Linked DNA regions of Homo sapiens: regions 1 and 2 are each linked to region 3. The links come from fine-mapping of genetic effects on gene expression. A gene starts in region 3. Each other region holds a variant in brackets. All regions are shown on one strand. Distances are from middle to middle.

The links. PIP is the estimated chance that this variant, and not a neighbour inherited with it, causes the effect.
Region 1: its variant is fine-mapped to the expression of SF3B1 in whole blood (TOPMed, PIP above 0.99).
Region 2: its variant is fine-mapped to the expression of SF3B1 in whole blood (INTERVAL, PIP 0.92).

What each region holds. Positions count from the first base shown.
Region 1 is chr2:197,395,745-197,403,904 of GRCh38, reverse strand. It overlaps SF3B1 (splicing factor 3b subunit 1), which reads left to right. Exons shown (of 25, transcript NM_012433.4): 12 at 141-320; 13 at 870-956; 14 at 1,079-1,349; 15 at 1,775-1,920; 16 at 2,017-2,163; 17 at 2,380-2,505; 18 at 2,969-3,190; 19 at 3,471-3,653; 20 at 3,739-3,850; 21 at 5,324-5,444; 22 at 5,789-5,920; 23 at 7,577-7,849. Among named protein-coding and RNA genes, the nearest start is that of SF3B1, 35 kb to the left of the region's middle. The variant A/G (reference allele first, on the strand shown) is at 3,279.
Region 2 is chr2:197,343,624-197,351,806 of GRCh38, reverse strand. No RefSeq gene overlaps it. Among named protein-coding and RNA genes, the nearest start is that of ANKRD44-DT, 37 kb to the right of the region's middle. The variant C/T (reference allele first, on the strand shown) is at 4,952.
Region 3 is chr2:197,430,386-197,438,568 of GRCh38, reverse strand. SF3B1 (splicing factor 3b subunit 1) reads left to right here and starts at 3,541. Exons shown (of 25, transcript NM_012433.4): 1 at 3,541-3,597. The coding sequence starts at 3,570. RefSeq lists enhancers at 3,093-3,142, 3,163-3,472, 2,714-3,913, 3,658-4,204.

The sequences.
Region 1 (8,160 bases), 35 kb after region 3:
AACTCATGCTGTCTATGTAAAATGTGTGTAAAAGTAAACACTAAAATATTAAAGTATGGAAAATCTTCTTTGAGTAATTTGCTCATTCAAAATGTTTGATTATAAAGAAACCACACCTATTACTCTGCTCTTTTTCCCAGGCTGCATTGCGTCAGATTACTGATAAAGCTCGTGAATTTGGAGCTGGTCCTTTGTTTAATCAGATTCTTCCTCTGCTGATGTCTCCTACACTTGAGGATCAAGAGCGTCATTTACTTGTGAAAGTTATTGATAGGATACTGTACAAACTTGATGACTTAGTTCGTCCATATGTGCATAAGGTTTGTTCTCCTTAATAGTGTTTCTGATAGTTTAAAGTTTTAACTTTTTCAGTTAATCAATGTTAAATTTACATATTCTCCTAGACCTTTTCCTTTGCACAAGTACACACCATACATGTACAAATACAGTTTTATACAGATGTACAGATGTTAGTTTTTGTCATCTTTGCCGTAAGAGGTTCATATTATTTAATTTTTTCATTTGCTTTTATTAAAATTAGATTAGGATGAGAACATATGAGAACTAACGCCAGTTAGTATTAAGAACCAGTTTTTTCACCGATGGTAATTATGGTGCAGTATGTTCATAGGGTGTATAAGTTATTTCTTTAAAAAATATTGAATATTAGTGTGTCACTAATAGCTCTCTTAAATTTTCATCTCTGTCTGGAGTTTGAACTTGTATAATTAAAATTCTTAAACAGTTCGTCCCTTGATTAACAAAAGTCCTGATAATTCTAAATTTCTTATGTATGTTTAATTCTGTACATGAGCATTTCATCAGTAATTGATGTGAAAGTGTAGCTTCTTCTCTTTTCTCTTTTTCAGATCCTCGTGGTCATTGAACCGCTATTGATTGATGAAGATTACTATGCTAGAGTGGAAGGCCGAGAGATCATTTCTAATTTGGCAAAGGTATTTACATTTAATTTCTAGAGAAGAAAATTTATATCTGTTTATGGAATTGATTATGGAAAGAAATGGTTGAAGATTAATATTACCAACTCATGACTGTCCTTTCTTTGTTTACATTTTAGGCTGCTGGTCTGGCTACTATGATCTCTACCATGAGACCTGATATAGATAACATGGATGAGTATGTCCGTAACACAACAGCTAGAGCTTTTGCTGTTGTAGCCTCTGCCCTGGGCATTCCTTCTTTATTGCCCTTCTTAAAAGCTGTGTGCAAAAGCAAGAAGTCCTGGCAAGCGAGACACACTGGTATTAAGATTGTACAACAGATAGCTATTCTTATGGGCTGTGCCATCTTGCCACATCTTAGAAGTTTAGTTGAAATCATTGAACATGGTAAGTTGTAATGTAACTTTGTCTTTTTTTTTTTTTCTTTAGGAGACAGGGTCTTACTATGTTGCCCAGACTGGACTCAAACCTTTGGGCTCAAGTGATCCTCCTGCTCAGCCTCCTTAGTAGTTGGGACTAGAGGTACACACACAGCCTGTCCATGTTTAATAGGACAGCTGTCCTAAAATTTGGGCTACTGATTTGGGGAGATAAATGGAAAGGCATAGCTCTACAAACTATAGATTTTATGATGGGTTTGTTATATTATCTGCTGACAGGCTATGGTTCATGTTTTGCTTTTACCTAATTTTGTTTAATGTGAACATATTCTGCAGTTTGGCTGAATAGTTGATATATTGAGAGAATCTGGATGATATTGTGTAACTTAGGTAATGTTGGGGCATAGTTAAAACCTGTGTTTGGTTTTGTAGGTCTTGTGGATGAGCAGCAGAAAGTTCGGACCATCAGTGCTTTGGCCATTGCTGCCTTGGCTGAAGCAGCAACTCCTTATGGTATCGAATCTTTTGATTCTGTGTTAAAGCCTTTATGGAAGGGTATCCGCCAACACAGAGGAAAGGTAAATCCACCAATTACCTTTTGATTTATCTTCATTAAAGTTAAGGCGACATAAATCTAAATTACTAAAGTACATATATTTTTTATTTAAAAATAGGGTTTGGCTGCTTTCTTGAAGGCTATTGGGTATCTTATTCCTCTTATGGATGCAGAATATGCCAACTACTATACTAGAGAAGTGATGTTAATCCTTATTCGAGAATTCCAGTCTCCTGATGAGGAAATGAAAAAAATTGTGCTGAAGGTAATTATTCCAGATTTGTTAATGTAAACTGGATATGTTTCATGGTTCTAACAGAATTTTAAAGTGTTTTTAAAAATCAACAAAAAAAACTGTATGTTACACGAATACTGTTTGATTTGTTTTTAAATTTTATTTTTTAAAATCACGTAATCAGCAATGAGTATTCTCTTCATTTCAGGTCAGTTGATTTATTATTACTATTTCTTAACCTTTTAGGTGGTAAAACAGTGTTGTGGGACAGATGGTGTAGAAGCAAACTACATTAAAACAGAGATTCTTCCTCCCTTTTTTAAACACTTCTGGCAGCACAGGATGGCTTTGGATAGAAGAAATTACCGACAGGTAAGCTTTTATTGTAAAAGAATATTCTCAAAAGTCCTTTCAACTCATTCTTTAGTCAACTTGAATGCATGTTGTATATTATTTTTTGCCTTGATTATCTCACAGTTTATATGTGCTTGATTATGAAAGGAGATGGATTTTAGTCAGCCAGTTAACTTCCATTTTGATTTTGGATTCGAGGATTAATACTTAACTGTGAATTGATGTTTTTGTCTGGTACATTCAGTGCTTTATCTGGCTAGATGAAACATGGACACAGTTTTACCTTGAATCATGTTAACTTATACTCATTTTTCGATGTTTGGTCACTTTTCTCTTCAACTTTAATAAGTAGCAATGAATCATTCTTACCATGTTTATTAGCTAAATAAGTAGTATATTTAGAGTATTTGGTTTTCATGATGTTGCTTTATTTCCTTGGAAAAGCAGTCTAAAAGGTTTTTTGTTTTTCTGTTCTTTTTAGTTAGTTGATACTACTGTGGAGTTGGCAAACAAAGTAGGTGCAGCAGAAATTATATCCAGGATTGTGGATGATCTGAAAGATGAAGCCGAACAGTACAGAAAAATGGTGATGGAGACAATTGAGAAAATTATGGGTAATTTGGGAGCAGCAGATATTGATCATAAACTTGAAGAACAACTGATTGATGGTATTCTTTATGCTTTCCAAGAACAGACTACAGAGGTAATGAAAACTATTATGGCACATTGCTACTAACTTTAATATTTGTAGAAAAGCATATTAGTTGTCAAGCAAATTTTTCTAGAATGCA[A/G]TTGAATTTGAAGTAATTTTTAAAATGCTCAGGGGGTTACCAAACGATATTATTCTACCTCAAGTTTTAAGATTTGATGTAAAAAAACAGCAACAGATGTTTGGGTGGTTAGAAAAGGTTGACTCTTAGTGTATTTCAACTGTGCAGTCATAAACCAAATGAATATGTCTTTTTTTTAAATTTATTTTTTAGGACTCAGTAATGTTGAACGGCTTTGGCACAGTGGTTAATGCTCTTGGCAAACGAGTCAAACCATACTTGCCTCAGATCTGTGGTACAGTTTTGTGGCGTTTAAATAACAAATCTGCTAAAGTTAGGCAACAGGCAGCTGACTTGATTTCTCGAACTGCTGTTGTCATGAAGACTTGTCAAGAGGTAAACTTTTGCATCAAATTCTTACTTCTTCCCCAAATAGTTTAATGTAAATAGTAACATTTTAACATTATTTGTTTTATTATAGGAAAAATTGATGGGACACTTGGGTGTTGTATTGTATGAGTATTTGGGTGAAGAGTACCCTGAAGTATTGGGCAGCATTCTTGGAGCACTGAAGGCCATTGTAAATGTCATAGGTATGGAATTTGCTGGTTACATAAGACTTTTTCTTGTTTTAACTTTCTTTTTCTTTTTTTTTTCGTAAGTAAAATCTTATTTAGGAGTTGGGAGGTTTTTGTTAGCTTTTTAAAAGCACTTCAAGATTGTAGTTAAGTCGGGGGATGTCACAAAAGTCTTGTTTCCCAAAACCCATTTATATTTTACTTTAAAGAGAAAAAAAGGGTAAGTTTAGGACCTACATGAGAGGTGGGAGTAGTCACAGCTCAAAAAGCTTTGAAGTCATGGAATACAGGACCCTAGTAGAAATAGTGTGTCAGGTGAAATATATTCTGCCATGTTCTGCTGCGGGGTGAAAAGGCAATCCTAAAGTTTTAATTTAGTTTTAGAACAATATATATATATTTAAACCTTGAATTAGCGATTATGACAGGTTTTTTGCTTGTGATCAGTTTCAAGGAATATAATCAGAGAAAAGTGAACTGATCAAATTATTGTCTTTATTTACATACCCAAGTTTTAAATACTGTCCATTCAGTTTTCTAACCCGTAATACAGCTATATTACAAATGGTCTTGGATATGGAGAGCAAAGTTTTTATTCCATTAGGGCAGTATGAAGAAAACAAATGGTTTCTTATATTTAATCTTTTTTTTAAATTGATTATAACTGTTGCCAAATGTAACTCCTGCAGAGTTTAGAGGCTCTGATAACCTAGCAGAAGTCAAAATAGCTGACTGTGAGAGAGCCACTGTTTGTTTTTCCTCATTTTGTAAGAGGTATTTATGCGATACACATGTTTAAACTATTGTATTTGCATATAATCTCCAATGCAACCCTATCCTCTATACTTGAAGATAGCTACTTGCCAGAAATCATTTACATGGCCACTTGTAGGGCTCTGGTTTGCAGGGAGTTTTAAACCATATTGTTTGTCAGAGAGGCATGGGAAGAGCAATGGAGAGAGAATCAGAGCAAGTGATTCTAGTTAGAGCAAGAGCCCCTGCCAGCTGCCTCCTTTTTTCTCTCTTCGTAGGTGTAAATACCATCCAAGTATGCCCTGCATTGCAGGGAGACTGGAGATCTGTTTGTTTTGCAGTTAAAGGGTAAGGGGGCCCTTTCTGGAAATTTTTGCTTTATTTACATGTTTACCTCTGGCTTATATTGTTGTGTATGGCCGGAACATAAGCTGTCCCCATATTTAAATGTCAGTGCACAAATATATTTCAGAATCAAACAAAACTTTTTTGTTATTGAGTATCCATCATCCTTTAAATCACTTCACTGATTTCTTTCATTTCTATACATAATCAAAAATTGTTAATAAAAGTTAAAAACGATTCTGAGTCTGGTCAGAATCTGGGGCTTTCTCTTTCCCTAGGCAGCTGTAAGTTTATATTTATACATAGTCATATATGACATTGCTAAGTAAAAGGAAAGTGAACAAAAGTTGCAATTCAAATGTTGATAGTTTATTGACTTCTATTAAATAGGTATGCATAAGATGACTCCACCAATTAAAGATCTGCTGCCTAGACTCACCCCCATCTTAAAGAACAGACATGAAAAAGTACAAGAGAATTGTATTGATCTTGTTGGTCGTATTGCTGACAGGTAAGCAGATTACCCACACATTTTTATAAGCAGTATCAATTTTCAAATTTGGCCACTTTGTATTCAATTAGCAAAATTTCCTTAATGTCACTAATATAAGTGTAAAAGATTAGGCTATCCAGTATTAATATTTTCAGTCAAATTTCAATTTGGATGGTAATGGGGGTGGCAATGTAATTTTAGGACTAAACCTGTAAGACTAACTCTTCAGCCTTTCTGAAGAGTAGTAAGTTTTATTTAATGCTTAAAATGAGTTAATCATGTTTTTAGAACTGAATTTGCAAATTTATCCTTAAAACTTTTCTTAATGTCACAATAATTAATATGTGTATTTTTTAAATTAGGGGAGCTGAATATGTATCTGCAAGAGAGTGGATGAGGATTTGCTTTGAGCTTTTAGAGCTCTTAAAAGCCCACAAAAAGGCTATTCGTAGAGCCACAGTCAACACATTTGGTTATATTGCAAAGGCCATTGGGTGAGTGTTATTTACTTCCATTAAAAAAAAATTACTTTATAATAAATGCATTGTGGTATTGGAAAATACTTCCATGTAGAAATCTCTTTTGAGGCATGGTCTGAATAATGCAGTTGAGAAAGCTCTTCATTTAACCACTGACCTTCTGATTATTGGAATGTATTGTTAAATTCTTTTTTTTTTTTTTTGAGACGGAGTCTCGCTCTGTCACCCTGGCTGGAATGCAGTGATTCAATCTCGGCTCACTGCAACCACCGCCTCCCAGGTGCAGGCGATTCTCCTGCCTCAGCCTCCCCAGTAGCTGGGACTACAGGCATGCACCATCACGCCTAGGTAATTTTTGTATTTTTTAGTAGAGATGAGGTTTCACCATGTGGGCCAGGCTGTTCTCGAACTCCTGGCCTCAAGTGAGCCACCTATCTTGGCCTCCAAAAGTGCTGAGATTACAGGCGTGAGCCACTGCGCACAGCCTGTAGTCTTAAATTCTTAATTAAAATAGATGGAAGGGTTTAAGACTTACTTTAATTACACTTTAGGTGTTTTCAGGGAGGGAAACAGTACCATTTTCAGAAAAATTTAAAATGTGTGCTGGTCTTCTAGGATATTGCTTAAACTATTAAGGCAAGTTTTTAGTCTCACAACATCATTTAAGTCTCATATTAATGCTTTATATGTTTTAAAAATCTTATTATGGATTGTTTGAGCCCAGGAGTTCAAGGTTACAGTGAGCTGTGATTGTGCCACTGCACTCCAACCTGGGCATCTGGGCACCTGGGCGACAGGGCGAGACCCTGTCTCTAAAAAAAACAACAAAAATGCTATTCTAACATTACTCCACGGATTTAACTGAATTATAGCTGCTTTGTGAGATAATCTGTGGTGGTTTGCTTCCACTCCATCACAACTAAAATAGGAAAAAACAGTCATTGTAGAAAACGAGACACCACATGTCCATGTGGCTTAAGAAAATGTTTTCAAGGAATATGACATGTGAATGTCTGATTAATTAGGTAGAATTATACCAGACAACACCCCCTCCCCTAACACATACTCATTCCTCTCCTATTTTGGTAGCATAATATTTATTTCAGTGGTGATGGAGTCAAGACATTTGCAAGAATAGCTTTTGTGCAAGCTTTTAGCCCCAATGTCCCTCTAAGTTTATGTCAAAGAAGAGGCAAATAGATGCAGCAAATTGTGTGGAGGAAAGATAAAAGGAAAAGAGATTTTATATGGTTTATAATGGGAGACTACAATTCGGATATTCCCCTCACCACTCCTACCTAGTTCTAGTGCCCATTTTGACAACTCAGAGAATTACTCACTTTAAACATTTAGTTAAATTTCTTTATATTTCAGAAAGTTTAAGAACTGAAAATTACATTTGAAAATTGAGTTAACTTAAAATGTTTAGAATTTGTACAGCTATGACCTCTGATCTTCTCAGAGTCAACTTTTTTAAACTGACCTTTTAATTTATATGAAATTTTTATATAGAAACAACAATGCCAGTGACTTGAAAGTATTGCATTTTATAAAATTACTGAGTTCCCTGTAATTATTAATACTTAAAAGTTTTCATCTTTATGCATTTTTTTCTTCCATAAATTTTTGACTTATAATGTAACAGCTTGTTGACCCATTTGTTTTTTTCAGCCCTCATGATGTATTGGCTACACTTCTGAACAACCTCAAAGTTCAAGAAAGGCAGAACAGAGTTTGTACCACTGTAGCAATAGCTATTGTTGCAGAAACATGTTCACCCTTTACAGTACTCCCTGCCTTAATGAATGAATACAGAGTTCCTGAACTGAATGTTCAAAATGGAGTGTTAAAATCGCTTTCCTTCTTGTTTGAATATATTGGTGAAATGGGAAAAGACTACATTTATGCCGTAACACCGTTACTTGAAGATGCTTTAATGGATAGGTAAGTGACTTGAACTAAATACAAGAAAATAATTATAACTCTTCCTTCATTTTAGAACATCGTGAAATAGTTATTAGATGACTTTTTACTGTAACATAGTTAAAGAAAAAATTGCTAGCCTGGAGTCTTAGGACATTGTAAATATGACTTATTATTTTAAAATAATGTGCACGCTGTAGTGATTCCCCAGACTTTCTTTCAAGTTCTCCCATCCCCTTTAAATCTCTTTTCTTATCTATTGAATTAAATAAATTTTGAAAAGGGTTGATTGATAATCTTTTGTTTTCAAAATTGGTCAAATATAGTTAGAG
Region 2 (8,183 bases), 87 kb after region 3:
AAATCTCCTAATAACTCAAAGCTGTTGCTGTGAATGAATGAAAGTCCCTCTATCTGGAAAAACTTTAAAAGTTTTGCTGTGTGGGTGTATTTCCTTATTTTCCATCCACTTTTCTAAAGTAATTTAATATTATTGCTTGAATTGTCTTCCTTAAGGCAACACTTCACCCCATTCTGGATTTGTTCTCTCTCTGTTTCATTGCTGTTCAAAATCTGAAGCACAAAGTCCTGCATCAAGGGCAGTAAGTGATTAATAGAGTTATTTCTGGCAAGCCCAGGCTCAAGTTAGGCTCTGAAAGATGATTTCAGATGTGGATATTGGGGGCAGTGGTACTCTGGGTAGGATTTGAAGGTGGTGTGTGTGGGCAACAGCAAGGTGATTCCCCATTCCCTCAACCACCAGCACTCAAAACCTGGAGACTCAAAGTCATATTTCCCAACTGGACTCATCTCGATCCTGTTCTCTCTGGCTTTCTGTGCTCCAGAGGCTCAGACATCTTTCAATGTCTCAAATCTGTGCAGCTCCCTCACACTACAGGGATTTTGGACATGCTCTTCCCTCTGCCTGTGACCCCCTTTGTGTCTCTGCCACTTTCTTTTCCTTTCTTTTTTTTTTTCTTGAGATGGAGTCTCGGTGTCTCACTCTCTTGCCCAGGCTGCAGTGCAGTGGCACAATCTCGGCTCACTGCAACCTCAGCCTCCAGGGTTCAAGTGATTCTCCTGCCTCAGACTCTCAAGTAGCTAGGATTACAGGCATGAGTCAACATGCTCGGCTAAATTTTGTATTTTTTTAGTAGAGGTGGGGTTTCACCATGTTGGCTGGTCTTGACCTCCTGATCTCAAGTGATCCACCTGCCTTGGCCTCCCAAAGTGCTGGGATTACAGGCATGAGCCACTGCTCCCGGCCTCTGCCACTCCCTTCTATTCTACTTGTTTTCCTCTCAGATATCTGTTTAACTTCATGAATACCCTTCCTGATTCCCAGTAAGAAAGGTCAAATTCCCCTATTATGACTCATAATGATTGTAGTTTTATTTTATTTTTTTGTCTTGGCACCTCTATGATTGTAATTTTAGATTAGTTATGTGATTCAATGATTAGTTTCCATCTCCTACTCTGGAATGTAAACTCGTTGAGGGCAGGAACTATGTCCATTATTTTTTCACCTTTGCCGAGTGCCTTACAAAGAGTAGGCACTCAGCTAACAGTTGTTTAATTTTCTCTCACTTGCTAATTAGCTAACACATAACTGAACAGGGTAAAGACCTGCAAATTCCCATTTTTAGAGAGATAATGTTCAAACAAGAGCTACTTGATCCAGGACTGCTCAGAATTTGAGAGGCCTCAGTTATTCCTACTTATTGAAGGAAAAGAAGACATGCAAAACAGACTTTTTTTTTTTTTTTTTTTGAGATGGAATCTTACTCTGTCGCCCAGTGGCACAATCTCAGCTCACTGCAAGCTCCGCCTCCCGGTTTCACGCCATTCTCCTCCCTCAGCCTCCCGAGTAGCTGGGACTACAGGTGCCCGCCACCATGCCCAGATAACTTTCTGTGTTTTTTGTACAGATGGGGTTTCACTGTGTTAACCAGGATGGTCTTGATCTCCTGACCTTGTGATCTGCCCACCTCGGCCTTCCAAAGTGCTGGGATTACAGGCGTGAGCCACTGCGCCTGGCCCACAAAACAGACTTTTAAAATTGTGCTATTCTAAATGTTTACATTGAGGTAATTAACACTAATATATAACACATACTACAATATAATTGTGTTACAAGATAATTATGGGATTTGTGAAATTAGTCTTTCATAGTGCACCCAGGCAATGTGGACTGTTATTGGAGTTCAAGCATAAATGTGTACGATGCATGTCATTCTTCAATTGCATTATTGTATCTCTTGGCTCTCTGGGTAGCCTGCTATAACAGAGGCCCTTTGTGAAAGAGATGTTGTCTTAGTCAGTTTGGACTTTGGTAACAAAGTACCCTAAACTGGGTGGCTATAAACAATATAAATTTATTTCTCACAGTTTTGGATGCTGGAAGTCTAAGATCAGATTGCCAGTATGGTTGGGTTCGGATGAAGGTCTTCTCTTCTGGGTTGCAGACTGCAGACTTCTGGTTGTCTCCTCACCTGGTAGAAAGAGGGTGAGAGAGTTGTCTAGGGTATCTTTTACAAGGGCACTAATCTCATTCACCAGGGCTCTATCCTCATGGCTTATTCTCCTACCAGAGGCCACACCTCCTAATACACTCAAATTGGTTGTTAGGATTTCAACAGGTGAATTTTGGGGAACCACAAACACCCAGTCCATTTCAGATGCCCAAGCCATTTCTCTACTGTCTACTTCCATCCCATGATAGGGCCTACCTTGACCAACGATATTAATCTAGCCAAAAAAAGAGCCAGGTAGAAGGAGATTTGCTCAGTCTTGGAAAAGGGAGAGAAAGACTGTCTTAGTCCATTTTGTGTTGCCATAAAAGAATACCTGAGACTGGGTAATTTTTTTTTTAAGAGTTTTATTTAGCACATAGTTAGGTAGGCTGGGAAGCTCAAGAGCATGGCCCTGGCTTCTGGCAAAGGCTTTTGTGCTGCACAACGTGGCAGAGAAGGTCAAAGGGGAAGTGGACATGTGCAGAGAGCCAAACAGAAGGAGGAAACTTGCATTGTAACCCTTGCTCTCAAGGGAACTAATTCATTACTGCAATAACTAATCTACTCTCCAGAGAGTGAGAACTTACTACCATGAGAACAGCACCAAGCTGTCTATGAAGGATCCATCCCCATGACCCAAACACTTCCACCAGGCCTCGCCTGCCAACACTGCCACAGTAGGGGTCCAATTTCAGCATCAGCTTTGGTGAGGACAACAAACCACATTCAAACCGTAGGAGAAACAGACCCTGGAAGCTCTCTCCTGCACAGCATGCACCCTGGCCTGGCAACACCCCCACCCAACTCAAGTGGCAGGTGAAGCCTGCTGAGGAGTTGGAAGTGTCAGGTGGTCACAGCTCCATTATGCCTTCAGCTCCCGTGGCCCTGAATTCAGTCTCACCAAATAACGTGATTATGATTTTTTTTTTAAAGATGGTGTCTCGCTCTGTCATCTAGGCCACTGCACAATCTTGGCTCACTGCAACCTCTGCCTCCCAGGTTCAAGCAATTCTCCTGCCTCAGCCTCCTGAGTAGCTGTGACTACAGGTATGTGTCACCATGCCCGGCTAATTTTTGTATTTTTAGTAGAGACGGGGTTTCACTATGTTGGGCAGGCTGGTCTCGAACTCCTGACCTCAAGTGATATGCCCACCTCAACCTCCCAAACTGTTGGGATTATAGGCATGAGCCATTGTGCCCGGCCACATGTGATAATAATTTGATTTCCAGTGCTGGCAGCACTGTGATCCAGGTAAACCTCTAATAATTTCCCCCCACCCACCATTTAGTGTCATGGAATATTGCTCCATAACATAATGCCACTCCCAGCATTCTTGGGAATATCTGAACCACCAGTCAGTTCTTCAGGCACAAAGTTATGTTAAAAGATTTAACAAATATAAAAAATATTGTATAACACATACTCCAAAAGTATAGGTAGTTATATTGCACATGGACTATGGGAATTGCTGGGTTAACTTCAGTCTTTAAAGTCAGTTCACATCACTCATCTTTTATCCTTTTCCTTGTAGAGAAATGAGGAAACCTTAGATACACTTGCCTCTGTGCTTGACTGACCCAGTGCTTCCTAGGGTGCTACTGAGTGTATTGGGTGACTGAGAACAAAAGGATTAAAGTTGAATGTTCATAGCTCTCTTTTACCCTCTAAAGAGAATTTTCTCTCTCTCTCTCTCTCTCTCTCTCTCTCTCTTTTGAGACAGAGTCTCGCTCTGTCGCCTAGGCTGGAGTGTGCAGTGGTGCAATCATGGCTTACTGCAGCCTCAACTGGACTCAGGCAGTCCTCCTCCACTTCAGCCTCCCGAGTAGCTGGGACCACAGGTGTGTGCCACCATGCCTGGTTAATTTTTAATTTTTTTAAATAGAGATGGGAGTCTCACTATGTTGCCTAGTCTCGAACTCCTGGGCTCAAGTGATCCTCCTGTTTCAGCCTCCCAAAATGCTGGGATTACAGGCGTGAGCCACTGCACTTCCCCTCCGCCCCTAAGAGAATTCTGAGTCTAGCAACTCCCACTTTTCCTTTTCTCCTAAGAGCTGAGGTGGATTCTGCCTTTGCTAGGTTGCTTTCTGGGCTTTCCTGATACAGATTTGGAACAATGGTAGACAATAGATAGAACATAGAAGAAGAGATGAGTTGGAGTATTTTCATGAAAAAAGGCCAAGATTTACTCACAAGAGAGAAGAAAGGGGGAAATGAAAGGAGAGGAAAGTCTAGAGCTATGAGGGGTTTGTTTCTTTCTAAAGAATTTTATATTTGAGAGCTGAAGGTCAAGGAGAGAAAATGTGGATTTGGGAGCAAGTTCTTTTCCATATGGAGGATATTTGAAGTGGTGGAGGTTAAAGAGGGTATTTTTATAATATTGTTTTGTTTTGAGTTAAAAATACACTTTCCTGGCCTTGATGCTTTTCAAGAAAGATGATAGCAATGATTTTAATAGGTTTGAGTTGGGTTGCTGGCCTGTTTCTTTGACTGCAAACCTGCTCTGAGATTTGGCTACTTGGGTCTCCAGTTATATCTGAGCGAGAGATAAATATTGGAGTAAGGCAGTTGCTTCCTCACTGAATGGTCTTTCTTCTTTCTTCAGCCTTAGGATCTTCTTTAACGATGTGGTTAGTTTATGACCTTTGGGGGAGCCTTTGGCTTGAATATATCTCAGTTTCTTAGCCTGGGTTCTCCCCAGACCAGATCCTGAGGCAAAGATTTGAGAACAGGTAGATGATTTGGGAATGCAATCCCAGGGGAAGTCAGGCAGAGAAGGAAAGAAGCTGCTAATACATGGA[C/T]TTCGCCACTGAGACCAGCACTGGTATGGGTGACTGGTGTTCAGTCCTGGGGGACTTCTGAGGAGCTTTATGAAATACGTCTCAAAACTATCCTCTCAGGGGACAAAAGGGGAATGCATTTATCCATCAGCTCTAATCTTCTATCGGTCAAGGGTGGTCTAGTAGGCTTTAATAGTCCTGGGCTTTTGACTTGTGCCTGCCTAAGAGTGGAGCAGGTTCTCACGGACATCCCACCCTCTGGGTGTCAGAGAAGCCACAGAGCACGAGGCTGGAGGCCCCTGGTGTGGAACAGGGACAAGGTGGCCTCGGGTTGTATTTGCTCAGAGCCGGTTGCAGGCTGCCCAGAACTGGCTGCCCCAGCAGTGGCATGTAAAACATGATGTGTGCAAAAACGCAGACGGCTTGGGAGATGGCAGCGTGTCTGCTGGGACTGTAGATGTGAAGGAGAGCATAGTGGGAGGAGAATCTGAATGAGACTGTGCTGCTATGTAGGCTGAGACAAAGAATACTGGCCTCATCCTGAAAGCAATGGGGAGTCGGCAAAAACTTGATGCAAAAGAATGTCCCTGGTCTCAGTGTGCAGGATGGATGAATGGGGCTATGTATAGCATGTGGGGCTGGGGGTGGGGGTTGTTCTGGAAATTGTGAGACCTGTTAGGAGCCAGTATAGACAGTCCAGGTGAGAGTACACAGTGTGAGGATCTGAAATCAGACTGGGAGGCAGCGGTTACTGAAAGGAGGGGACAGATTTAACCCAGACCAAACAAGGAAAAGCTGGCCATGATGACAAGCCAGTGAGGTGCGTGTGACTCAGGCTGAGTAGAGCAGTCTCATTCCCTTTGGATCACAAGCTATAAGCGCACGGCCTCACAGTTAATGGCTGCCTTCTTTGCCTTATTCTCCACCATATGAGAGACTATATGCAAGCTCTTTTTTTTTTTTGAGACAGGATCTCACTCTGTCACCCAGGCTGATGTGCAGTGGTGTGATGATGGCTCACTGAACCCTCAACCCCTGGGCTCAGGTGATCCTCCCACCTCAGCCTCCCAAGTAGTTGGGACTACAGGCATGCACCACCATGCCTGGCTAATTTTTTGAATTTTTTGTAGAGATGGGATTTCACCATGTTGCCCAGGCTGGTCTCAAACTCCTGAGCTCAAGTGATCCTTCCACCTCAGCCTCCCAAAGTGCTGGGATTACAGACATGAGCCATTGTGCCCGGCCATGAGCTCCTTTTAAACACTTGGATTATTGTCTGGAATGACAATCTTTCAGTACCTAATAGTTAAGGTGCCATTGCTTTTGTTTTTGTTTTCTTCTGGTCCTGAGAGAACAAGGTCAATACACCTCAGAGAGTGAGGAAATTAATGTGTGTGTGAGCGTGTGTGCATTTGTGTGTGTGAGAGAGAGAGAGAGGAAATGAGTTAATTCTGTGGAGTTTCTGCATCCAGTCTAACCCAAGGCCTGTTCTAAACCCGACTTTCCATGGTTTGCTTATGTGACATGTAATTTACCCTTTTTAGCTTAAGCCACTTGAGTTGGGTTTCTCATAATCAAGAATCCTGACTAAAATAACATCTTTGTGTCCCAAGCTTTTTTCTACTTTTTGTTACCCAGGCTGGAGTACAGTGGTGTGATGATGGCTCGCTGAAGCCTCAACCTCCTGGGCTCAAGCGATCCTCTGACCTCAGCCTCCTGAGTAGTTGGGACTACAGGTATGCACCACCGCGCCTGGCTAATTTTTTAAATTTATTTTTTGTAGAGATGGAGTCTCACCATGTTGCCCAAGCTGATCGGGAACCCCTGGGCTCAAGTGACCCTCCTTTGGCCTCCCAAAGTGCTGGGATTTACAGACTGGAGCCACCGTGCCTAGAATATATTCTTCTACGGAAAAATAATAGGTCCAAAATTATCGCCAATTTACACCAACTCCAGAAATGTATAAGAATAACTTATTTCATCATACCCTTACAAGTACTAAGTATCAAACATTTTTTAAACCTTTATTAATTTCTTCAGAAAAAAATTATTTAACATTACTTATTTTTAATTACTGATGAGGTTGAGGCTGTTCCAATTCTACTTGTTTTGTATTTTCTTTTTGGAGAATTTTCTAATAATATCTTTTACCTATATTGGGCCTTCCATTTTTTTTTTAACAAAACCAATATATATAAAATCCTCCCTAGCTAAAAACTTGTTAATTTGCCTATCATGTTTATTTCAAATGTTTTCCTCAGTGTGGATGCTTGCCTTTAATTTAGCAGAAAATAACACAGACCTAATTTCCACTCTTTTGCCTCTATATGTTGATTACAAGCAACATTTTTTTAAAGAAACTGGCTTTTTTTTTTTTTTGAGGCAGGGTTTCACTCCCTTCACCCAGGCTGGAGTGCAGTGGTATGCTTTTGGCTCACTGCAACCTCCACCTCCTGGGCTCAAGTGATTCTCCTGCCTCAGCCTCCTGAGTAACTGGAACGCCAGGCATGTGGCATCACACCTAGCTAATTTTTGTATTTTTAGTACAGACGGGGTTTTACCATGTTGGCCAGGCTGGTCTCAAACTCCTGACCTCAAGTGATCCACCCACCTTGGCCTCCCAAAGTGCTAGGATTACCGGCGTGAGCCACTGTGCTCTGCCAGGAACTGGCTTTTAAAAATGGAAATCTCACGTGGCTGCTGTGGCAGACATGCAGGCCCTGCTCAGATCTCACTTTGAGAAGGAGCTCACATTTCAGCTGTGAGGAGTGCAATGCACTGACTGCCTGTAGATGCAAAACCTTCAGGGTCTGCCATGGCATATGGGAATGGAGACCACTCTCTTCCCAGGCAACTCCTGCTCAACAACTGAGCGTGGCAAGGGTACTAGGTCCTGGCCATCTTTGCCTAACACAGGACTCCTCTGTGAGAAATCTGTGTGTGGAGCCCCTGTTTGATGAAGTGAAATGTCCTCAGAGCTGCACTGCAGTCTGGAACTCTTCCTACCCAAGCCTCCTTCCCTCCCACTCTTCTTTCACAGTTGTCAGACAGATATTACAATCTGAAGGCTTTTTCCTGCCTCATCCTGCTCTCTCTCCTCTTCACTTTTCACAGGAACTACCCTCAGCCAACCTCCGACACCTTTATCTTCATCTTAAAAATTTTGTAAATTTACTTATTAAAAAAATTCACAATTGTGTGTGTGTGTGTGTGTGTGTACAAAATAGTACAACCTGACTGGGTGTGGTGGCTC
Region 3 (8,183 bases):
TGTGCAACCAAGAGAAATAAAACATGAATCATTAGGAGGCTGAAGGCACTTGTCCCAATTTAAAAAAAAAAGTGATCTTCAGCTAGTTTCCAGACCTAAGGTAGTTTTCAGATCTAGAAATGAGTTCAGGTCATCTAATTGAAGCAGAAGCTAGGTCCCCAGGAAGGACTGTGTAACACCACAGTGTTTGTTTTGTTTTCCTTTTTTTTGTTAGTATTTGTTAATGATCCCTTAATACTTCTCCAAAGGGAACTATCATTTGCTCTGGTAACTATACACTGGGAAAAGTGGAATAACCAAATATTTTAAGACCTGTGGGACACAAGGTCCAAATCGACATTGTTATCCAAAGTGTCATAATATCCTATCAGAGTGGGTGTATGTAGGGGCCAGATCACACATGAAGTTCTGACCCAGGTTTGGCTCACGGTGGCAAGAACCCACCACATCTTATTTCCCAAGTTCTCGAAGTTGGTTAAGGGGCTCCTGCCTGTAATCCCAGCACTTTGAGAGGCCCAGATGGGAAGATCGCTTGAGGCTAGGTGTTCGAGATTAGCCTGGGCAATATAGCAAGACCCTGTCTCTACAAAAAATTTAAAAAGTAGGCAGGTGAGATGGCTCACGCCTGTAATCCCAGCACTTTGGGAGGTCGATGTGGGTGGGTCACTTGAGGCCAGGAGTTCAAGACCAGCTTGGCCAACATGGCAAAGCCCTGTCTCTACTGAAAATAAAAAATTAGCTGGGTGTAGTGGCACACATCTGTGGTCCCAGCTACTAGGGAGGCAGAGGTTACAGTGAGCTGAGATTACGCCACTGCACTCCAGCTTGGGTGAAAGAGTAAGACTCTGTCTCAAAAAAAAAAAATTAAAAAGTAGCTGGGCATGGTGGTGTGCACCTGTAATCCTAGCTACTCAGGAGGCTGAGTTGGGAGGATCGCCAGAGCCCAGGAGTTTGAGGCTGGAGTGAGCCACTGCACTACAGCTGGGGCAACAGAGCAAGACCCCATTTCTAAAAACAAAGCAAAACTAAACTGAACTAAAGTGGGCCTGTGGGATAAGAACTATCACATTGGGATTTATTAGGGAAACTGGCTCCTGCAATTTTGGAGACTAAGTCCCTTGACAGGCCATCTGCAAACTAGAGGCCCTGAGATGCTGGTAGCTCAGTCCAAGTCCCAAGGTTTAGAATCAGCGAAGACAATGATGTAACTCAGTCCAAGGACAAAGGCCTGAGAACCAGGAGGAAGGGGTGGGGATAGGGTGCTGCTGGTGTAAATCCAGGATTCCAAAGGCTGAGCAGCTTGGGGTCGTTGTCCAAAAACAACAATAGAGGAAGATTGGATGTAGCCAGCCTTCGCACATAAATTGACATTTTCACCTTTTCTCTGCTTCTGTTCTTCCTGGGGTCCCCAGCAGACTGGATGGTACCTGGCCACACGGAGGGCCGATCTTCCCCACCTAGCCCACTTGTACTCACACGCTAATCTCTGGAAACACCCATACAGACACACCACAAAATAGCTTTACCAGGTTTCTAGGTATTCCTTAATCCAGTCAAGTTGACACTTAAAATTAACCATCACATCTTTTTTTCTTTTTTTTTTTTGAGACGGAGTCTCGCTCTGTTGCCCAGGCTGGAGTGCAGTGGCACTATCTCCGCTCACTGCAAACTCCGCCTCCTGGGTTCAAGCGATTCTCTTGCCTCAGCCTCCTGAGTAGCTGGGATTATAGGCAGGTGCCACCATGCCCGGCTAATTTTTGTATTTTTAGTAGAGATGGGGTTTCACTGTGTTGGTCAGGCTAGTTTTGAACTCCTGACCTTGTGATCCGCCTGCCTCAGCCTCCCAAAGTGCTGGGATTACAGGCATGAGCCACCACGCCTGGCCAAAAATTTTAATTTATCAAATTTATTCCTTTACTGATGCTAATAAAAATCTGTGGTGGCTCACGCCTATAATCCCAGCACTTTAGGAGTCTGAGGCAGGAGGACTGCTTGAGGCCAAGAGTTTGAGACCAGCCTGGGGAATATAGTAAGATCTCATTCTACAAAAAATAAAAATTAGCTGGGTATGGTGGCCCATGTTGGTGGTACTAGCTACTCTGGAGACTGAGGCAGGAGAGTCTCTTGAACCTTAAGGTCGAAGTTAGGGTCAGCTGTGATCGCACCACTGCCCTCCAGCTTGGGCAACAAACCAAGACTGTGTGTCAAAAAAACAGAAAAAAAATCGTTTGTGTCACCTGATCTGAAGAAGGGAGGGAGTCTGGTGAGAGGGAAAGAGGGAGCAAGGCTGCAGGTCAGGAGTCACCAGGGACAGGTTATCTAAGCTCTCAGTCCAGTGCCATTGTCCATATATCTCCCACCTACCGCTAGCCTCAGGAAAATGGCTCCTCACTTTACCCAAAGTAGATATGGGGTCTTCCTGCAAGAGGAATACACCCATACCATTTCCCTCCCTTCAAACGACCATACTGACCCATGGTATGGTTAGTATTTGGGTTGCAGGTTTATCACATAGCGAGGTACTCCTCTCTTTGTGATGGCTCTAACCTTGATAACTACCTGTTTTCCTCGGCTGCTTCCGGGACCCATCTTTCTGAGCCTTTCTTTCTTTTTCATCGTCGAAGTCAAAGACCAGTGTGACAGTACAAGGTTATATTATAATTGATGCCCAGGAAAACAGACTGCCGTATTCTGATCTATTAAAATTCCTGATTTAGGAATACCGTCTAGGATTTAAGAGAAACATCTAATGAATGTTAATAATGACGATGAGTGGTTTTCTAGGAACCCATAAAGTAAAAGGCTTTAAAAGGGTGGCAAGATTGTCACTGTGCAACTCAGCAACGATTTGTGAGGCTCAACGAAATTCCTACCCAAATTATTTGCAATTATTAAACAGAAAGAATGAAAAATGACCTTGAATTACAGGGCGAAAGATGGGACTGTTAAGACTGTCTTCGTAACTAAGCACTGTAAAGACTGAGACAGCTGCAAGGGAAAGTTTTCCTCGAGCTCTTCCAGTGAATTTTGGGAAAAGGGATTGAATGTCTGAGGTCTCTTCCAGCTCTGAAACCGCAGCGTTTCGTACAGTGTTCATTTTTTTTTAATGGGAGGGGTCTCGGGGTCTTGCTCTGTCGCCCGGTCTGGAGGCTTGAGTACAGTGGCGCGACACGATTACGGCTCACGGCTGCCTCGAACTCCTGGGCTCAAGCGATGCTCCCGCCTCAGCCTCCAGAGTTGCTGGGACTCAGTGTCTGTTCTTAACTCCCTTCGTAGAATCCACTTTCCTCCAGGGCAAAGTTACTCACTTAAGGACCTTACGGCTCGGCTCGGGGATTTCCTGGGTCACCACGCAGGCGACTTCAGGGCCCAACCGTGTCTCCTCCCCCACCCACAATGCACCTCGCGGTTCCCTCTAGGTGGCAGTTCTGTCACGTGTCACCCGACGGAGCGCGCTCCCGTTTGGCGCACGCGCAGAGTGCAGCCCCCAGCTATTTTTCTCCGTGGCGGCGGCGACGAGCGGAAGTTCTTGGGAGCGCCAGTTCCGTCTGTGTGTTCGAGTGGACAAAATGGCGAAGATCGCCAAGACTCACGAAGGTAAGCGGTCTTTCCCTGCTTACGTGTTTTCTTCGTTGCTAGCCTAATAAAAGCCTTTTTTCCTAGGATTCTGCCTTTTTCTATGGTTTCTTTCGTAGGAGCTGAGCCCGCGTTTCGGGGCCAAGGGTCGTCTCCTCCGCGCCAGCGGCGCAGGCCACTGCCCCGCGTAATGGCGTCCTCCTCTTACACCCCCGACAGGCGCTTTGTTCAGTGTTTGGGACCTGCTACTTCAGAGTAGCTTCTCTTCTCTGACCAGAGGGCCTCGTTTAAGCGGCTTCCTCAGTAGGATTCGTGGGCAAGGGATCGGGGAAGCGGGCGTGGGGAGAAGGTCTCACTCGCCTCTCGACACTGTCGTCCCCATAGTTTGTGCAGAAGAGGGTCAGAAAAGCACTGAAATACGGCAGCCGCTTTTCCGGCAGACTGAATCGAATTTGGTTAAACCGAGATTCCGTTACTCCTACCCTTGTGTGTCTTCAAGCGTCAGTTACTTGTTTATTTTTCTTGCACGAAACGATTTGGGGATAAAATCTGGTAGTTGTTTTCCCTCCCTTAGTCACTTTTAGTATAATATTGATCTTTTTCTTTGGAGACTGGTTATTGGAGGAGCAGATGGAAGAGGAAAACATAAATTACTTTCATTAATGGCCGAAGCTTTCAAGCTAGTTGATCGTTTTATGGAATACAGAGTGTGCAAATTAGGAAAACGTTGGGAATAGACTGGAGTTCATTAGGAAGTATCCAGAGATGACAGAAAATGGGATCACTTTTCAGAAAAGACGAGGCATGAGAAGTTGGAACTGCATTCTTTGATTTCTGACTTGGAATCCGAGATTTTCACTGAGAACGAGACTTCTAAGTCACTTTTGTTTCATATGTTCTTTCTGGGTATTTGGCTCGGTATTAGTCTGTGAGAGGTAAGAGACTGAGGCCATCCAAAATTTTACAGTCTGATAGGAGAAACAGATGTGTATGTTCTCATTCTCTCATGAGGCCAGATGCATGCTTAAGTAGAAGAAAAAGCAGCATGTTCTGGGAACCTGGGTAACGGAATGATTATGTTTAGGGTTGTTTCACTGAGGAGGTTACATGACCGTGTTTTAAAAGGATCAGTCAGTTTTAAATCGGGAAGGACATCTGAGCCTGAGAACATCTTGTAACAAGGTATTGAATCGTGAAAGGTGTGTTTGAGTAGTAGTCCACTGTAGCAGGAACAGAGGGTGCAAGTAGAGAAGAAATAAATGAATCTGGAAAGGTTGGATTAGGACCAGAATGTGAATGGCTTTGAATAGTTGGGTCACCCAGAGGACCTGAAGTCCAGCTTTCTGCTATTTATCAAACATGCTAATGAATTGTCAATGACTTTAATATTAGTATACCATTTTAGGTATTTAGGATTTAAATGCTCTCTTAGTATTCCTAGGCTTTATTATTTTGTCTTTAGACTATCTCAAATATAACCTTTTGCAAAGTAAGTAGAAAATATAAAGTTGTGCTGTTTTTGTTCATTCAGGATGTTATTCATTTGGGGATATTGATAGTATAGCTTTGATACTTATTTATTGGTAACTTCAGTATAAGATGCCCTCAGACAGGAAAATCAGAATTCTGATCAGTTTTCCTGAATTTTTTAGAAACCCAGCTAAAAACTTTGGTCTATTGCTATTCATTGGCCAAACTTGTTATTTTTGAGATTATTCTATCAATGTGAATTAAGTGATACCATAAGAAAATAGCAGAACATTCAATACTTGAGCACTGTCTGTGCCCATCCCTATGGGATATGTCAGGGGATGATAAATGTTTAGTAGAAATACACATAATACTGACATAGCTTGTTGCTTCCTTCCTAATGGAACTCTAGTTCTTCATGGTCCATCACTGTTTTCTCTTGTTAAGCCATTTTTGATAAACTGAAGCAGAATTAATGCTTTTTGGGGCAGTGCTGCTATAGTACTCAGTATAAATGTTATATTGCTTAGAATAGTCTGTTGTGTTAAGATTTTCTCTTCTCCTTAGCTCCAAGATTGAGATAAACTGATAACTATTTATTTATTTTGCTGTCATATTCCTTTCAAACATTTCTTTTTTTATTTTTTATTTTTTTTTGAGATAGGGTCTTTTTCTGTTGCCCAGGCAGAAGTGCAGTGGTGCAATCTCGGCTCACAGCAACCTCCGCCTTTTAGGTTCAAGCGATTGTCCTGCTTCAGCCTCCTGAGTACTAGTATCGCAGGCATGTGCCACCACACCCGACTAATTTTTGTATTTTTAGAGACAGGGTTTCGCCATGTTGGCCAGGCTGGTCTCAAACTCCTGACCACAAGTGATCCTCCCACCTTGGCCTCCCAAAGTGCTGGGATTACTGGCATGAGCCACCATGCCTGAACCCTTTCAAACATTTCTATTAGGATCAGGCCTCACATCCTCTTTAACCAATCTGATTATATTTTACCCTGGCCAATGTGGCTTATGCTTTCCAGGATTGAAATATAAAAAGAACTGGAATTACTCAAATCAGATAAAATCTTTTAGATCTTTCCACGTATTATGTCAGGTGTATGGTTATGAATATGCATAATCTTGCCATCCAGCAGTTCTTCAGATACTGCTGACTTTGGCATACAAACAGGGAACACACATTATTCTCTGTTTTGTAAGGGGAAAATGGTTTAACCAAAAATCCTACATATCAGCTTGTTTTGCCACTAATCCTTTGAATTAGATTTTTTGGGACATCACAAAGCTGAAAAAGTTTTTTCCCTAATTCTTTGCTTGATAAATGGCTGGAATAGTTATAGTTTTGTTATTGTGTATCTTGCTGATCTATATATTTTTTCCTGTGTTTATTTTTGAGACCGGGTCTTGCCCTGTTGCCCAGGTTGGAGTGCAGTGGCGTGATCATAGCTCACTTAACCTACAACTGCTGGGCTCAAGTGATCCTCCCATTTCAGCCTCCTGAGTAGCTACAACTACAGGCGTGTGCTACCATGCCTGGCTAATTTTTACAATTTTTTTTTAGAGATGGGGTCTCGCTATGTTACCCAGGCTGATCTCGAACTCCTGGGCTCAAGCAGTCCTGCCTTGGCCTCCCACCGTGCTAGGATTACAGGTGTGAGCCACGATGCCTGGCCTTGAAATTTTTTTTAATAGAATTAATCATTTAGGAATCAATTTATCAGTATTGTTTGTAGTGTTCAGTAAAATGATTTATATTATAGTTAGTTGTCCTATTGGAGTTTTGTTTAATGAAAAAGCTGAGGGTTGGGATTCAGAATATACTTCCTGTTTTTCTGTGATGTCTTTTAGAAGCCTTGTATTTTGGAAATAGTTGTTCACCGGTTATATCTGGCTGAAGGAGAGTAGATATCACTTAGGGACCAGACTGAAAGGTGTAGGTGAGACATTAACATCTGAGGGCAGTATCTGTGTAACATGTAATGAGCAGTGATTAGAACACTGAAAATAATTCAGACGAAAAATGAAAAATAAAAATCAAGGAGGAAGAAGTGCTACAAGTTGGGTTTAGCAGGATCTAAGGCTTAGAAAGAAGAAAAGGGCTGGGCATGGTGTCTCACACCTATAATCCCAGCACTTTGGGAGGCTGAGGTGGGCAGATCACCCAAGGTTAGGAGTTCCAGACCAGCCTGGCCAACGTGGTGAAACCCCCTCTCTACTAAAAGTACAAAAAAATTAACCGGGCATGGTGGCGTGAGCCTGTGATCCCAGCTCCTCGGGAGGCTGTTGCAGGAGAATCGCTTGAACCCAGGAGGCGAAGGTTGCAGTGAGCTGAGATCACGCCACGCCACTGCACTCCAGCCTGGGCGACTGAGTGAAACTCTGTCTCAAAAAAAAAAAAAAAAAAAAAAAAAAGAAGAAAAGGCACAGGAGGGGAAATCAGAGGGACAGAATTGGTGGGGAGCAGTTAAATAGTTTTATCAGATGTGACCTTCTGCTATCAGTGATATGAATTGTTTTTCTCAAGAGCTTGATATGTAGGTCTGAGTTTTAAAATACAGGAGGCCAGGGGTTGCTCACGCATGTAATCCCAGCATTTTGGGAAGTCAAGACAGGAGGATTGCTTGAGACTGCAAACATACAGAAAAGTAGAGAGCGGCTGGCGCTATACTCCAGCCTGGGCAACAGAGCAGGACTCTGTCTCAGAAAAACAAAACAACAGGCCGGGCACAGTGTGTGAAGACAGGTTTTAATAACACTAGGGTAGGCTGGGCACGGTGGCTTACGCCTGTAATCCCAGCACTTTGGGAGGCTGATGTGGATGGATCACCAGAGGTCAGGAGTTTGAGACCAGCTTGATCAACATGGTGAAACCCTATCTCTACTAAAAATAAAAAAATTAGCTGGGTTTGGTGGTGCGTGCCTGTAATCCCACCTGCTTGGGAGCCTCAGGCAGGAGAATCTCTTGAACCAGGAGGTGGAGGTTGCAGTGAGCCGAGATCGTGCCACTGCACTTCAGTTTGGGCAACAGAGTGAGACTTTGTCTCAAAACAAAATAACAAAAAAAACTACCGTGAGTAGTAAAATGAACCCCTCATATACTCATCACCTAGCTTCAACAGTTACAAGCTTAG